Homo sapiens: one gene and its partner. The protein of the gene in region 1 interacts with the protein of each later gene in a biochemical or structural test. Each region holds a gene or a part of one and is shown in the gene's direction. Other genes may lie near its edges.

The links.
Region 2: the proteins of DCAF10 (region 1) and OTUD1 form a complex in vitro, tested with the Homo sapiens proteins (one study listed by BioGRID).

What each region holds. Positions count from the first base shown.
Region 1 is NC_000009.12:37,851,806-37,860,426, forward strand, and holds part of DCAF10 (DDB1- and CUL4-associated factor 10), read left to right. Parts: intron 1-2,974; coding exon 2,975-3,177; intron 3,178-5,435; coding exon 5,436-5,546; intron 5,547-8,242; coding exon 8,243-8,388; intron 8,389-8,621. UniProt on the Homo sapiens protein: May function as a substrate receptor for CUL4-DDB1 E3 ubiquitin-protein ligase complex.
Region 2 is NC_000010.11:23,433,809-23,442,700, forward strand, and holds OTUD1 (OTU domain-containing protein 1), read left to right. Parts: upstream 1-5,266; 5' UTR 5,267-5,649; coding exon 5,650-7,095; 3' UTR 7,096-8,569; downstream 8,570-8,892. UniProt on the Homo sapiens protein: Deubiquitinating enzyme that specifically hydrolyzes 'Lys-63'-linked polyubiquitin to monoubiquitin.

The sequences.
Region 1 (8,621 bases):
AATAAATATATATGAAAATAGATATTGAAAAGTTACCCAGAATATAATATGAAAAAGATACTGAAATGAAAAGATAGAAAATATAAAGAAGCAAGTTATAAGAAAAGGAGAGTCAAACATGAATGTTTCATACATATATTTGGAGCTCTAAAAGAATAGGGAAAATCAGTGAGAGGCAATATTGGAATAATGACTGAGAAACTTTCAGAATATATGAATAATACGAATCTTAAGACTTGGAAAGTCAAATGAATCCCAGTAAAGATAAATAAAAAGAGATCCAAATTTACATATACCAGTGAAATTGCAGTACTCTAAAGACAGAGAGAAGATTCACCAGAGGGGGGAAAAAAGATAAATTACGCAAAGTAATAGTCAGACTAATAGCAGACTCACAAATAGTAACAATGGAAAATAGAACTCTGTGGAAAATTATCCTAAATATTCAGAAGGAAACAACGACCTAAAATTATATGCTAAGCTAAACCTTTATTCAATAAGATGAGTTGAGCTGGGCATAGTGGCTCATACTTATAATCTCAGCACTTTGAGAGGCTGAAGTGGGAGGATCACTTGAGACCAGGAGTTCCAAGACTAGCCTGGGCAACACAGCAAGACCCCATCTCTACAGAAAATTTAAAAATTAGCCAGGAGTGGTGGTGCACACCTGTAGTTCCAGCTACTCGGAAGGCTGAAGTGGGAAGATTCCTTGAGCCTGGGAATTTGAGGTTATAGTGAGCTATGATTATGCCACTGCACCCCAGCCTGGGCAACAGAGGGAGACCCAGTCTCTTAAAAGAGTGAAATAAAGATTTTCAGAACAGGCTGGGCATGGTGGCTCACGCCTATAATCCCAGCACTTTTGTAGGCCAAGGCGGTGGATCACCAGAGGTCAGGATTTTGAGACCAGCCTGGCCAACATGGTGAAACCCCGTCTCTACTAAAAATGTGAAAAATTAGCTGGATGTGGTGGCAGGTGCCTGTAATCCCAGCTACTTGGGAGATGTATATTGTACAACATGATGACCACTGTTAATGACAATTTACTGTTGTTATTATATATAATTGAAATTTGTTAAAAGTAGATTTTAAGTGTTATCATCATAAATGTTAAGTATGTGAGGTTATATATATATATATATATATATATATATATATATAAATTAGCTTGATTTAGCTATTCCACAATATATACATATTTGAAACATCATGTACACCATTAAAAAATTTTATTTTTTTTAAAGGCTGAGGCAGGAGAATCGCTTAAACCCAGGAGGCGGAGTTCACAGTAAGCCAAGATCGCGCCATTGCACTCTAGCCTGGGCAACAAGAGTGAAACTCCGTCTCAAAAAAAAAAAAAAAAGATTTTCAGAACAATAAAAAGCGAGAGCATTTACCTCAACAAAGTCTAACTTTAAAAAATTCTGGCCGGGCATGGTGGTTCATGCCTGTAATCCCAGGCATGGGTGTGGTGGTGCGTGCCTGTAATCCCAGCTACTTGGGAGGCTGAGGCAGGAGAATCGCTTGAACCCGAGAGGCAGAGGTTGCAGCGAGCTGAGACAGTACCATTGCACTCCAGCCTGGGCGACAAGAGCAAAACTCCATCTCAAAAAAAAAAAAAAAAAAATTCTGAGGGATATACTTCAGAAAGAAAGGATCAAAAAAGGAATTTTGGAGATGAACGAAGGAATGATGAGCAAAAAGATTGTTAAGCATGTATGTAAATCTCAATATACATTGACTGTAAATTCTATTTTTTTTAACAGCTGGAAGTTTTACAACTTTTTCTTCTGGTACTCATTTTCATTATATTTTCTCATAGAATTATATCCTGTTATATGCTCAGGCTGGTGTGCAGTGGCGCAATCATGGCTCACTGCACCGTCCACATCCCAGGCTCAAACCATCCTCGCACCTCAGTCTCCAGCTAACTTTTTATTTTTTGTAGAGACAGGGTCTTGCTATGTTGCCCTGGTTGGTCTTGAAATCCTGGGCTCCATCTGTCCTCACGCCTCAGCCTCCCAAAGTGTTGGGATTACAGGTGTGAGCCACCACCCCTAGCCTACTGATCATTCTTATTGGCATCAAAAATATGCACGTAAACTGACATTAATTTTAAAAATTGTTTTCTGTGACCACAGGGCTATTAGTGTTACATTTCTTCTGGATTTAATGATCATTACAATATTATTAGTCCACAATTGATTAAAACAACATGTATTATTTTAAATAATAATTATTAACATAAAAAGTAAAATTTATTGGAAAGACATCTCATTTTTGAAGTTTCAATTTTTTTTTTTTTGAATAGAGACAGGGTCTGTCTGTCTGTCACCCAGGCTGGAGTGCAGTCGTGTGATCATAGCTCACTGCAGCCTCAAACTCCCAGGCTCGCGTGATCCTCCCACCTCAGCCTCCTGAGTAGTTGGAACTATGAGTGCACACCACCACACTCAGCTAATTTATTTTAATTTTTTAAATTTTTGTAGAGATGGGGTCACCATCTTGCCCAGGATGGTCTTGAACTCCTAGGCTCAAGCAATCCTCCTGCCTTGGTCTCTCAAAGTGCTGGGGTTACAGGCATGAGCCACCATGCCTGGCCTCAAATATTTTTTAATTGACACATTGTAACTGCACATATTTACAGGGTACAATTTGATGTCTTGACACATATATGTTGTATAATGAGCAAATCAGTATTAGCATGCACTTATCATTCCTTTGTGGTAAGGACATGTAACAGTCGCTCTTCTAGCTATTTTATAATATACTGTATCTTACTATTAACCGTCATCACCCTACTGTGCAATATTAATACCCTAGAACTTATTCCTCCTAATTGTAATTTTGAGCCCATTGACCAAGCTCTTCTCATCCTCCCTACATTTTATTTTGAAGGGCAAAAAATATGATTATTACTGAACCGTTATATTTATGATAACTCTAGATTTTGTTGGCTTGGTTTCTCCTGTAGGTATACAGAAGATGGGTGTCCACATAAGAAATTCTTTCACACACGTTTTCTCATGCGAATGAGGTTAACACCAGATTGTTCCAAAATGTTGATTTCAACGTCCTCTGGATATCTCTTAATTTTGCATGACCTTGACTTAACTAAGTCTTTAGAAGTAGGCAGCTATCCCATTTTAAGAGCAAGAAGAACTACTTCAAGTTCAGGTAAGCTTTTCTTTTTTGGTCAAAAAGATTTTTCTCGAGAATCTCAAACATAGAGATGGTATAGGTTTCTTTTCTGAAAATGATAGCAGGAAAAGGGAAGACAGTTTTTTAAAAGGCATTCTTTAGAAAGCTCATTGATGGGTTTTTATCTAAGCAAGTATAATGATTTGTATGTATCTCTGACATATCATTCATATGTACCTCTGAATCACAAATGGACTAGGAGGAATAACTGCTGACCCTAAAGTATTTTCTTTTAGCTTTATGCTAGCCACAGGATCTTTTCATCAGTAATTTTGAATCATCACTATCTCAAAAATTAGTGATGGCACAAGGTCTTAAGTCCTTCTGGAATCAAGCAGAGCTTTTATTAAATTATGGTCAATATAGAGTTTTAGTTTTATCTGTATCCTAGACTTACAGATGTCCAGACACAGGTAGCTGGTGCCATCTTATCTCATTACTCTCTAAACGCTCTTTTGCTAAAACTCTGTCTCTTCTCCCATTGCTGATTTTGTTAGACTTAAGAGAATTTAGGGTTCAGAAAAATGTACGTATTGTATTTTATCAACATTATGTGATTTAAAAAAGACTATATTTCATCTACCTTTGGGAAAGAGGGGACTGGTGTGGGGACATACCCATCATTTACATTATAAACAAAAATCCAGGGGAAAAAAGACTTAAGCATTTGGAACATAGAATGCTAATAAATTGCTATTAAAAGGCAGCTTTGAATGGTTGGGGCCAGGTGCGGGGGCTCACACCTGTAATCCCATCACTTTGGGAGGCCAAGGTGGGAGGATCGCTTGAGCCCAGGAGTTGAACTCAAGGGTAGCCTGGGCAACATAGGAAGACCTCATCTCTACAAATAACTTAAAAATTTAGCCAGGTGCAGTGGCTCACGTTTGTAATCCTAGCACTTTGAGAGACTGAGGTGAGCAGATCGCTTGAGCCCAGGAGTTTGTGACCAGCCTGGGCAACATGGTGAAACCCTGTCTCTACGAAAAACACAAAAATTAGCCAGATATGCTAGCATGCATCTGTAGTCCCATCTACTCAGGAAGCTGGGGCAGGAGGATCACCTGAGCCTGGCAGGTTGAGGCAGCAGTGAGCCATGATTGTGCCCCACTGCCCTCCACCCTGGGCAACAGAGAAAGACCCTGTGTCCAAAAAAAAGGAAATGAAAAAAAAGGTTGGAATCTTTCTCCTTGTGCACAGGACCACTTCTGAAAATTCCTTTGGGAAAGTACAGACATCATTGTACTGCAGTGCCTGGCATAACTGTCAAAAGTAGAAATTTAAGTTTTACCAACTTACTTGCAAACAAGGGATTTCATAAATATACGAGTATAATCCTTTGAGATTCAAATTTGCCTTTTAAGTTAAACATGATAAGCAACTCTAACTTAGTGAGAAATAGTGATTTTGAATGTCTAGTTGGCCTATTTCAACTCAAAAACCAACAAGGTTTTCAGTTTTCTAATGGTAATTCTGATACTAAATAACATTACAGGAAATTAGACTAGTAAGAATTCTTAACATAGGTATGGGACCACTAGCAAAATGTGATGATGAAATAGACACTGCTATTTGGAGTAATATATCAGACTCCACTACCTGATACTCATTTTATTTTTTTCAATGTAAACTTTATGTCACATTTCACAGTATTCACATAAACTTGGCACAGTGGTGCATGCCTTTAGGCCCAGCTACTCAGGAGGCTGAGGCTGAGGCAGGAGGATCACTTGAACCCAGGAATTAGGAGTCCAGCCTGGGCAACATAGCAAGATCCTTGTCTCAAAAAAAAAGACTATTCACGTAATTTCAAGAATGATAATGGAAGTTTTTGGTATACTTTAAAGAAGAATCTCTTCATGTTTCTGGTAATGGGCCTGTTGTTTGGACCCTATTTTAACATAAAACAATAGGCTTAAGAGCTTAGTTTTCATTTTCATGGAATTTTTGGGTTCCATTTTAGTACAGAAATCATGAGGATCCAAAGACGCTCCTATGATTATTTGGTTTTTCATTTTTATTTCACATAGTCAAGTCTTTGATATAAAAGATTCAGAAAGGGACTAGATCTTAGAACACTTCAAAGAGCTGTCTTGCCTTCCTCAGTCTTATAGGCCAGTGATATATGAGCATTTTTTCAAAATTTTAAAACTATGGTTCGAGTAGATAATTAAAAAGTTAAGAGCCACTACCAGAGTTATGCTAGGTTTATTGTCAGAATTTTTTATATTTTTAAGATTTGACCACTTCATCAAGTTCATCTGGTCCTAGAGTTTCTGGCTCACCTTGTCATCATAGTGATTCTAATTCTTCTGAGAAACACATGTCACGAGCCTCTCAAAGAGAAGGTAGGTTAAAAGTTGGATTTTATAATCTTGTAACAACAGATTATGCCAATCTGATTAATTATTGATTGATTAAAACCAGTTTTATGGTTTTAATCCATAAAAATAAAAGCAATGGAGATGAGGTGATTTATCCCTCAGTCATCATCTTCAAAAAGCTAACCGAGAGTCCCTGGGGTTGAATATCTTGAGTTAAATCTTAATAGAACTTGAGCTTTGGTTTTATTAGCTGGACTTAGTTTGGTCTAGTTTGGAGAGGAAGTAGTTCAGAAATATAGATTTCAATCAAGATTGTTGTGAAAATTAAGTGAGATTATGCACGTGAAAGCTCTGTATAAATATAAGTCATGAATTTTCAGGTAATTGTGAAAGTCACCTGGTTACCCTCAGACTTTTTGCTCTGCCATTTCCTTGTCTGTGCAATGCCTGACAGCTTCCAAGGGTTTGTAGGATAAAGTGAGCTACCATCTGGCTCCTCTCTGTATTTCCCAGTTTTTTCCTAGCCATTCTGGCAGAACTAGTTGCTCTGCCCTATACCTTCCACCACACCCCCCCAGTTGAAATGGTTTCTGCCTATACAAATTCCACATACTGTTCCTCTTCATACTAACTGACGTCTAAGCTCTTATACCATTCATTGTTTATTCTTCTCTTTGTGAACTGAGTATTAAGAGCCAGAGATGGCTTGCTTTTTTTTTTGTCATTTTGGGTCACTTTTGGAGATAGACATTTCTCTACCTTGTTATTTTGGGCAGAGACTAAATCTTAGACTTCTAATTTGTGTTTTCACTGGGTGGCTTTGCCTAGTAGATGCTGGTTATCTTGCATGGCTACTTATGTCAGTAGAATGGTTTAAGAGCTCTTTCTAACCTATATGGCCTATCCACTTGCCTCTGGATATTGAAGTCTGTGATATTTCACTTTAAGGTTAAAGGCTCCTCCTCTTAAATTTAAAGATTTATGCCCAGAAGTATAACATTTTTCCTTTGATTTGTAACACAAACATCTTTTGCAGATTCTTCCTGTTCTCCTTCCACTTGTGCTATGGGAAACAAGTCAAGGCTTCTAATAATCATTGAGAAAAATCTTTATTGATTGACTACACCATCCACAAGAAAAAGAAACTTAATTTAAGAAGAATAGTTAACATGCTTGCTTGTTATTGACCAGTGGTAAACACACAAACACAAATATACAGCAGTTCTATGCCACAGAGAGTTAAGAATGAGGGAAGAGATGATATATGAGGAGGCTGGGAAGAAGAGGAAAATGAGAGGGTGAAAAGAGAGGGAAAACATGGGAGAAGGTGGGGCTTATAGGTGAAGTTGCTCTAAATGTTGGAAATCCTGGATCTTCAGATGTCAGAGTATGTTAACACTATCCTTTGGCAGATATAATAGCTGTATAGAGCAGAGGCTTTCAAATGCATTTCAGCATTAGAACTCTATTTTTGACATGAAATCTGCTGTGGATTCTTAGAGATGTAGCACAAATAAAATCAAAGTAGCTCTGGTTCAAGAAAAATTAGGGAGGCTCTTGACCCTCCAGCCTTCCCCACTCCATCTACACCTCAGCCCACACGTGGTTCCCCACTTTTGCCATCTCCTGAGGAACCCCAAAGGAGCACAGTTAGCAAACCACCTACTTAGAATGCATTTCTTGTCTGGTTTTGTTATAGGTTTTCCAAATTAATTCTTAAAATAAGAGTATATTTTTCTCTAAAATTGTTAAAGTTCAATCATATGTGAAATAGTTATTTCAGTATAGTTTTGTTATAGCAGTGTAATTTAGAGCTTCACAGGTTTCTGTTAATGATGTAGTAATCTGAAGGGAATCTTTAGAAAGAAGGTAACACATCTGCTTGACAAGCAATTCACAAAGGATCTGACAGAGGGAGCTCAATACCTTCAAAATAACTCCTTCCACAGTCAGAGAAGTGTTGAAATATTTCTCTTGCTATTAAATTTCTAAGTTGCTTCCTTACAGTGTCTATGAAAGTGGTTTTTCACGCACCTGAAGGATATAACATATTCCTATTATTAACAGTGCCTTACTCCAGCAGTCATTTTCATTGGGAGTTAGGTAGAAGGAAATGATGAGGCATAGTAGAGTCTATGATTGGCAATGTCTCCCATCCCTTGTTTTGACATGCCTTTATGTGAGGTGTCCTTTCTTACCTCCAACATTTTATTTTTTGTTTATAGTGTTGTTATTGCAGGTGCTTAAGTCCTGATCTTTTTATTTGCTTAAAAGGCAATCCTCATGGCTTCCAAGTATTTCCTTCTCTGGACCAGAAAGCACCAGGACCAATGAGAGGAGAATTGTTACCTTTTACCTTTCTAGAGTCCTTTCATGTCACATAACTTTGGTTCTTACTTAAATAAAGAGCTTTCTGAGATGTAAGATCCAAATAAAAGAACCCCTAGTCAGCTTCTATGCCTTAGCCTTAGGTCAGTGACAATTACTGCTGTGGGAACTTGGATCTTTTGTTCTATTTATACCCTTTCCCCACACCTTCACCCCGCCAAAACTCACACACCATACATTGGGGAGTACCACGCTCTTTAACATATGGTAGCATAAGGGGCAGACTAAGGAATGACGGCATGGGAGGTGGCTGCCAGAAATAAAAAGCTTTGATGAACTGCCTTAGTTTTTTGATAATACAAATCCCACATCCTCATTTTCTTATATCTCAGGAGTTTCACCACGAAATAGTCTTGAAGTCGTAACCCCTGAAGTTCTTGGTGAGAGTGACCACGGAAACTGCATCACGTCCTTACAGCTGCACCCAAAAGGCTGGGCCACTCTTCTTCGGTGCTCAAGCAACAGTGATGATGAGGAGGTACAGGCAGCAGCACTCCACCTTCAACAGGGCTCATTGGACAAATTGCCATTGCCGTGTGTGCAGAGCTTAGGCCGATCGCTGACTGCAGTCTCTGCCTTCAAGGGCATACTGCTAGAGATCCTGCTTCTCGACTCTCCTGTTTCTGTCCTCTCTTGCTTCATATGGTATCATTATCCCTTCCAAACTCTTCTTATTCCTCTCCTGCTGGGGTTGAGCAAGGTGGGAGGTAC
Region 2 (8,892 bases), on another chromosome or scaffold:
ATGTTCAAGTTATGCAAGTAATACATAAATTCAATTTCGGAAGAGCCATAGATTTAAATAATTAAGGGTAGCTTTCACTTCTGCCTGGTAATTTCACTTCCAGCTGGTGACACGTCAGCCTTGGTAGATGAGCTGGAGAAAGAATATTTAGGTGTTTCCATGACATGATGCTCTTTATTTATTTATTTTTTCACTTTAAATTGTCAGTCCAACAGAACACAAAGAATGAATATATATCAACTCCACACATCACTTCCCAAGATGCTTGCCTTTATTGCTGAGGTACTATTTTTATTTGACAACATTCAGAAAATATTCTGCGCACTTTTCAGAATCTCAGAGAACCACACATAGAACCAACGAAACTAAAAATATGACATATCTGTGTACAATTCCCATATGCTTCATGGAATGCTCAACAAATGTTTACTTTACAAAATGTAAAAGTATTTTTTATATCATGAAGATTACACAAAAAGTTTATAAAAAAATTATAAATTCAAATAGCATTTCTACTAGTCTAGTGCCCTAAATATCCGTTTTATCTGGGCATGAATGATTTGGCTTCAGTAAGCTTCAGCTCACTTATATCATTTAAACAATTACATTTAAGCTATCATATAGAGTACTGTGAATTTGTCAGAAAAAATCTTTAAGATATATAAAATGTTGTCCATGATATATGCAATAATGTCACAAAATAAGTATTGTTGCTGCTGAGACATTTATGGTTAAAATATAATTATCTTTTTATCTCAAGCAATGAGCATAGTACCTGGCTCATGGTAAGGTTTTTAAAAACAGCTTTTATTTAGATATGATTTACATACCATAGAATTCATTCATCCTTCACATGTATAATTCAGTAGTTTTTAGTATATTCACAGAGTTGTGCAACTAGCAACTTTTTGTTTGTTTGTTTGTTTGTTTGTTTTGGAGACAAGGGGTTGCTCTGTCACCTGGGCTGGAAGGCAGTGGCAGGATCATAGCTGACTGCGATCTCAAAGTCTCAAAGTCCTGGGCTCAAGTGGTCCTCCAGCCTCAGCCTCTTGAATAGTTGGGACTACAAGTGCACACTACCACACTCAGCTGATTATTATTATTATTATTATTATTACTGGTAGAGATGGAGTCTTGAATGTTGCCCAGGCTGGTCTCAAACTCCTGGGCTCAAGTGATTCTCCTGCCTCAGCCTCCCAAAGTGCTGGGATTACAAGCATAAACCACCTTGCCCTGCCATAACCCATTTTCTTTTTTCTTTCTTTCTCTCTTTTTTTGTTGAGATAGGGTCTCCTCTGTCACCCAGGCTGGAGTGCAGTGGCACAATCACAGCTCACTGCAGCCTCAAACTCCCAGCATCAGTGGATCCTCCCAACTCAGCCTCCCAAGCATCTGGGATTACAGGTGTGTGCCACAATGCCTGGCTAACTTTTGTATTTTTTGTAGGGATGGGGTTTTGCCATGTTCCCCAGGCTGGTCTCAAACTACTGCACTCAAGTGATCTACCCACCCTGGCCTTCCAAAGTGCTGGGATTATAAGCATGAGCCCCTCGAACAGCCATAAGCTATTTTCAAACCATTTTGATCACTCCAAAAGAAACCCACGCCCTTTGGCAGTCACTCCACATTCCCTCCTCACCTCAGCCTATTCTCTATTCTAGACATTTCATATAACTGGAATTATACAGTATGTGACCTTTTGCATCTGGCTTTCTTCACTTAGCCTGTTTTGAAGATTCATCCATATTGTAGCATGTGTCTTCATTTTGTTCATGGCTGAATAATATTCCATTGTCTGAATGTATCACACTTGGTTTATCCATTCATCATTTGATGGATATGTGGGTAGTTTTTACTCTTTGGATATTATGAATACTACTACTATGAATATTGATATACAAGTTTTTGTATGGAGATATGTTCTTATTTTTCTTGGTTATATACCTAGAAGTGGAATTACTGGATCATATGGTTAACTCTATGTGTAACATTTTGAGGAACTGCTAAGCTGTTTAAAAAGTATCTGCGTCATTTTACAATCTCACAGGCAACGTATGAAGATTTTAACTTCACATTTTCTCCAACACTTGCTACTGTCTGTCTGTCTTTTCTTTTTTTTCCCTTGATACAGGGCCTCATTCTGTCACCCAGGCTAAAGTGCAATTGTGTGGTCATGGCTCTCTGCAACCTCAAACTCTTGAGCTCAAGCAATTATTCCCCCTCAGCCTTCCAGGAAGCTGGGACTACAGGCATGTGCCACCATGCCAGGCTAATTCTTTTATTTTTTATTTTTTGTAGAGACAGGGTCTTGCTATGTTGCCTCGGCTGCTCTTAAACTCCAGGGGTCAAGTGATCCTCCTGCCTCAGCTTCCCAAAGTACTGGGATTATATGCATGAGCCATGGCTCCTAGCCTAGGAATTGTTTTTTCTAGCTTAATTGGATGTATTTAATGTTTATCTAAAGACACAGGATTCAGCTTCTTTGCACAGTTTTTTTTAAAAAATCACATTTATAGTCTTCCCATGTTTTAATATACAGTATATAGCAAAAACGTTACAAGTTATTCTATGCTAAGTTTTGGGATCCTTCTGAGGAGCTTACAGTTGAGGAAGGGAAAACAGTCACGGAAACCATCAGAATAAAAACAACTCACTTCCTGAAAACTTATACTCTTCAATCGTTCTGATCATGTAGCAATTTTCATGCATATTAATTTTAATTACATAATTACATTATAGATAATTATTTGAACTCACGAGAAATCAGATTTGCCTCCCTAATCTCTTTGCTGTCACCTGCAAGGCCTTGTCTTCTCTTAGCTTCCAAGGGCCAAAAACAACATCCAGTTCCAAAGCTGCTATCATTTCTGCTTTGAAGGTTTCCTGAAGTACCACCTCCTCCAGGAAGCCTTTCCACATTGAGATACAGAGTGGACAAGGATTCCTACTGCCAATACACAGTCTTGCATAGTCCACTGCCCCCAGACAAACTAAAAAGATTTTTAAAAATGCATTCATATGTTAATGTTTCAAATCTTCACCTCTTTGTTTTTGTCTGCTGCTAACTTGGTACATCAGAGGTAGTGTGTCTTCTGTGGACCTAGTGTTTTGTTGTTGTTGTTGCTGTTTTCTGCATTTACCCCAACCTGTTAATATCTACTCTTGCTTTAGGGTTTAAATTCTAATATTTTCCTTATCTCCCTTCAGGCTCCAGTTATGCTAGTCCTGCCAGGCACGTGGTGGGTATGGTAAATATTATTTGGTGACGGCCTTGTTAACAGTCTTGTCTTCTGTTTCAGAACACCAGCTAATGAAAGAGTTAAGCGTGAAGTGCTTCATGCACAGAGCAACAGATGCTCAACAAATCAGTGATGAAATCCAAGGATGGTAATTTCCTTTTTCTAATTAGCCATGAGAGCTTCAAGCTCCCAATGGGGTAGTTACCAGAATTTGAAAAGTTAGACAGTCATTTACCTTCTTCTGAGTTAATTTACATAAGCGGCTGGAGTGACCTGAGCTGGGACCCTGCCAGTCATACTGCCCAAAGATAATTAAAAGCCCTGGCTAGGGTCAAGGGACCTGGATAGTAATCTTGGCTTCACCACTGTCTGACAAACCTTGGAAACTCGCTTTCCATCTACTCATTCACTTAGTAAATATTAATTAGGTCCAATTATGTGCCAAGCACGGTGTTAGGGGATGGAAATATAAGAGCAAGACCCAAGTCTCTCAATTCCTGGAATTCACATTCCACCGGAAAGGTGGGGACCGGAGTACAGCCTACATCACCTACAGGTTCAGTCTCCCTATCTCTAAAATGTTAGGACAACCTCTGGGTTCAATTCGAATGTTTAGGCCCTGTTAATTTAGCATTTGATCACAGCTCAGAATATAGCAAAAGTCTCCCACTACCTCTGGCTTTCCCTTACAAAGGCGGGTATTACAAAAAGACTCGGTAGAAGTATTTTCTATAGTCTATCTTGCCCCGGAATGCAGGTCACGACTTTCTCCACCGCTTTTGACCTCTGGCTAGCATTCACACCTATTCTCAAAGGGCCCTAAGTGATACTGCATTTGGTATTCTGAGAAAGCTTGTTTATAAAAGCCTAAAAGGCTTCCTTGCTTTCCCCCAAGCCAGATATTTGCCAAATGGCATAGGTCAGAGGTGCAAAGTTGGTTTTGTCTTAGCAAGGCAAGAGAATCCACTAGCGGACTCACCCTTACCGGTGAGTCCAAGGAAATGCATAGAAAAGACACAGTGGTAAAACTAGCTGGGCACCTGTAATCCCTGCCCAAGGCAAGGCTGAGGAAGGGGGATCACTTGGGCCCTGGAGGTCGAGGTCGCAGTGGGACATGATGGCGCCACTGCACTCAGCCTGGAAGGCAGAGCAAGACCTTGCCTCAAAAAGAAAAAGAAAAAAAAAAAAAGGAAAAGACGCGGCGGTTCCACGAGTGGTGGCTAGGACCCATAATCCCAACACTTTAGGAGGTCGAGGCGGGAAACAGCTTGAGGCCAGTAGTTCGACACCAGACTGGGCAACTGTGGTGAGACCCTCGCCTTAAAAAAAAAGAAAGAAAGAAAGAAAGAAAATTAGCCGGGTGCGGTGGTGCACACCTGTGGTTTCCAGTTACTCTGGAGGTTGAGGCGGGAGGATCGCTTGAGCCCGGGAAGTCAAGGCTGCAGTGAGCTATGGACTGCGCCACTACACTCTAGCTTCGGAGACAGGTAAGACCCCCATCTCTAAAAAGATAAAAGAAAAGAGGCAGTAGTGAATGCAAGCAGGGATGGTAGCCCATGACCAGCAGAGGCCAAACAGACTTTAAGGCAGCATTCCGTTCTCCACACCCATGCCGGAAGCTTTCCTGCCACGCAAGCTTTCCGAGCATGCTAACTCGCCCCAAGCAGCTCCCATCCCGCAGCATCCACTGCAGCCGCTGAGGAGAGTGGCGCAGCGCAGAAACCAGTGCCCAGTGCCCAGGTGGGGGAAGCGGTCCGTGGGAGTCACGTGGGCGGGAGGCCCAGCCAGGATCCCAGGACTGCTCAGGCCTCCGCGCCCCCGGCCTCGCCCCGCCCGCGCGCGCTCGCGCGCCGAGGGCCACGCCCGTGACGTCGGCGGAGCGCGGTAGGGGGCGGGGCGCGGGCCGGAGTGGGCGGGGCGAGCAGGCGCGACTGAATCGGGCGCCGCAAAGAGCCGCGCATTCCAGTGAGTCCACGTGACGCGGCCGCGAGGCCTGAGGTAAACAACCGCGGCCCCGCCTCCCGGGCCTCCGCGCGCACCGCGCTCCTCCTCGCCGGCGGGACGCGCTCCAACGGGGCGGGCGGCTTCCTCCGTGAGTCCCCAGCGGCCGCCGCGGGCCGAAGCAGCTGCAGCGGGCGCGGCGCCCCGGGTCTGCGGGCCGAGCGCACCGGCAGGGGTCGAGCTCGCGTCCCGTCCCCGCCCCCCTGCGCTGTGGCGCAGCAGGAATTTGGCCGGGACCCGGGCGCTATTCGCGGCTGCTGACTCGCGGCGGCCGGCTGCCTTTCGCTCATCTCTATTCTGGGGCCGTTGGGTCACCGCGCTCCGCCGGCCCCCTCCCCCGGGCCCGGAGGGTGTGTCCCCCGCTCCGGGGCTCGCCGCGCCTATAAGGGGCCGAGCGGCGGGCAGGGACATGCAGCTCTACAGCAGCGTCTGCACCCACTACCCCGCCGGGGCCCCGGGTCCCACGGCCGCCGCCCCCGCGCCACCCGCCGCCGCTACCCCCTTCAAGGTCTCGCTGCAGCCCCCGGGAGCCGCCGGCGCCGCGCCCGAGCCCGAGACCGGTGAGTGCCAGCCCGCCGCGGCCGCCGAGCACCGGGAAGCCGCCGCTGTCCCCGCCGCCAAGATGCCCGCCTTCTCCTCCTGCTTCGAGGTGGTGTCCGGGGCCGCCGCGCCCGCCTCCGCCGCCGCCGGCCCGCCCGGCGCGTCCTGCAAGCCGCCGCTGCCGCCGCACTACACGTCCACCGCACAGATCACCGTGCGGGCCCTGGGCGCCGACAGGCTCCTGCTGCACGGGCCCGATCCCGTTCCCGGCGCCGCGGGCTCCGCCGCTGCCCCGCGCGGCCGCTGCCTCCTGCTCGCCCCGGCGCCCGCAGCCCCGGTCCCGCCGCGGCGGGGCTCCTCGGCCTGGCTCCTGGAGGAGCTGCTGCGGCCCGACTGCCCCGAGCCCGCGGGCTTGGACGCGACACGGGAGGGGCCCGATCGGAACTTCCGACTGAGCGAGCACCGCCAGGCCCTGGCCGCCGCCAAGCACCGAGGCCCCGCGGCGACCCCGGGGAGCCCCGATCCCGGCCCCGGTCCGTGGGGCGAAGAGCACTTGGCGGAGAGGGGCCCCAGGGGCTGGGAGAGGGGCGGCGATCGCTGCGACGCGCCCGGTGGGGACGCGGCGCGGAGGCCCGACCCAGAGGCCGAGGCACCCCCCGCCGGGAGCATCGAGGCCGCCCCGAGTAGTGCGGCGGAGCCGGTGATCGTCTCCAGGTCGGATCCCAGAGACGAGAAGCTGGCCCTATACCTGGCCGAGGTGGAGAAGCAGGACAAGTATCTGCGGCAGAGGAATAAGTACCGATTCCACATCATTCCAGACGGCAACTGCCTCTACCGAGCTGTCAGCAAGACGGTGTATGGGGACCAGAGCCTGCACCGGGAGTTGAGGGAGCAGACGGTGCACTACATCGCCGACCATCTCGACCACTTCAGCCCCCTGATTGAGGGCGACGTGGGGGAGTTTATCATCGCTGCTGCCCAAGACGGGGCATGGGCCGGGTACCCGGAGTTGCTGGCCATGGGGCAGATGCTGAATGTGAATATCCATTTAACTACTGGAGGGAGGCTGGAGAGTCCCACGGTGTCTACCATGATTCATTATTTGGGCCCAGAGGATTCCCTGAGGCCTAGTATTTGGCTCAGTTGGCTCAGTAACGGACACTATGATGCTGTATTTGATCACTCCTATCCTAACCCAGAGTACGACAACTGGTGCAAACAAACTCAAGTGCAAAGGAAACGCGACGAAGAACTTGCCAAATCTATGGCCATATCCTTGTCTAAAATGTATATTGAACAAAATGCATGCTCTTGAAATGTCTCAAAACCTTACACCCTGGGAATAATTGCATATATAACTTGTGTTTGGAGAATCACATGAACTTTAATCAGGGTAATAGCACTTTCAAACTTGCTAGTAGATTTTACTGTAGGTGTAATGCCTTAATCATCTTTTTGAATGTTTTCTCAGAGCTGGAGGTTGCTGGGCACCTAAATGATGTTTCATGATAGCTTTGGGTGATTTTACTGCTATTTATAATTTGCTGTATAAAGTGAGCATTACTTAATTTGCAAGCTGATTTCTCACAGTGTAAATTTGTTCATTCCTGGTAGTCTATTTTCTATAAAAATGTATTTTTGCACAACATTTTTAAAAACTGGTGTACCTTCATCTATGACGTGTTCCATTTTGACAAACAGCTTTCAGGCGTAAATCCAGAGAAGTGCTTTATATGAAATGTATTATTTTGAACAGAGTTTGTGATTTGGTAGTTATTTTATGTTGTTGAAATTTGAATTTCACAATTCTTAGATAATTATTTCAAATGGATATTGATGCATTCTTGTTACCAGATGTTTGGCCCATTCCATTTTGATGAAACAGAGCTGTTGTTTTGGAAGTCATTATTTTTCTAGAAATGGCGAATCTTTTAAAGAAAATTACTTAATGGAAGGTTGTGGGAAGGTGTTTTTTTGTGTTTTTTTTTTGGTTTTTGTTTTGTTTTTCCTCTTTTAAGGGATAGTAGCAGGTCTTACTTGAATGAAAGTCTGATATTTGCTGATGGCAGAATGATTATTCTGTACCCTGGTTGATGTGTAGAGTAGATTGTCTGGTGCTCTCAGTTGTTTTTATTTACATTTGTCACGTTGTTGTAAGAGAATGTTAACATGGTATAAAACTCTGTGACAAGATAAGCCTCCTGCTTTATATAACTTCTTGAATCCAGCTAAGAGATTTATAAACTAATGGCATAAATGTCTGGAGCCAACCTTGGCAGTTATAGCAGGAGAACACTGTCTTAATATTTCTTTACATTCTTTCAAAAGGCAAAATAGGATTGCCCTGTATTGATGTAGAAATGTCTGTAAACAGAGCTTGTATGGTTTGCTGGGTCAAACAATGTTTCCAACTTAAAATCAATCTCATTGCCACTTTAACTACTTTTAGTCATATTTATTAAGTAATGCAGTTTGTACTTTTTTTATTTTGTAACATTTTGTGATTTTTTTGTACAAAACTGTATTTGTACAATAGAGCAATTCCCAGCTGATGGAATGAATGAATAAAATGCAAAATTATACTTTTACAATGCCTTTTTGGATAGAGTGGTTTTTAAATTGTGATGTTTGTAGGAAACTTTCTTGCATGTATGCATGTACACAATTTTTTTTTTCCATAAAGATGCCACAGCAATAGAGAGGTTTCCTAAATTATCACATGAAGAGGATAGGCTAATCATGAGTAATTTCAAAGGATAAGTCTGAATAAAATATAATTTAAAAGTGGAGTAATCCAAGAAATTGCTCTCATTATTTCTAATTATAATTTCTGTCTACAGTTATAGCTGTACCTATTGGCTAATGAAAAAGGAAGTGCAAGTTTTGTGTCAGCCAGCAGAATGTCTAATTAAATGTCATACTTTTGTATTCCACTCACTCTCAGTATAGAGTTTAACGTTTTAGAGAGTAACCAAAGAGATGCCCTAATTTTTGTCTAGTCTGGCCTCTTGAGACCACGGGAATCTGTTTTAAGATGTTGAAAAGTGCATGCTATAGTTTGAATATATGTGTCCCACCACCCCAAATTCATGTGTTCGTCCCCATTATGGTG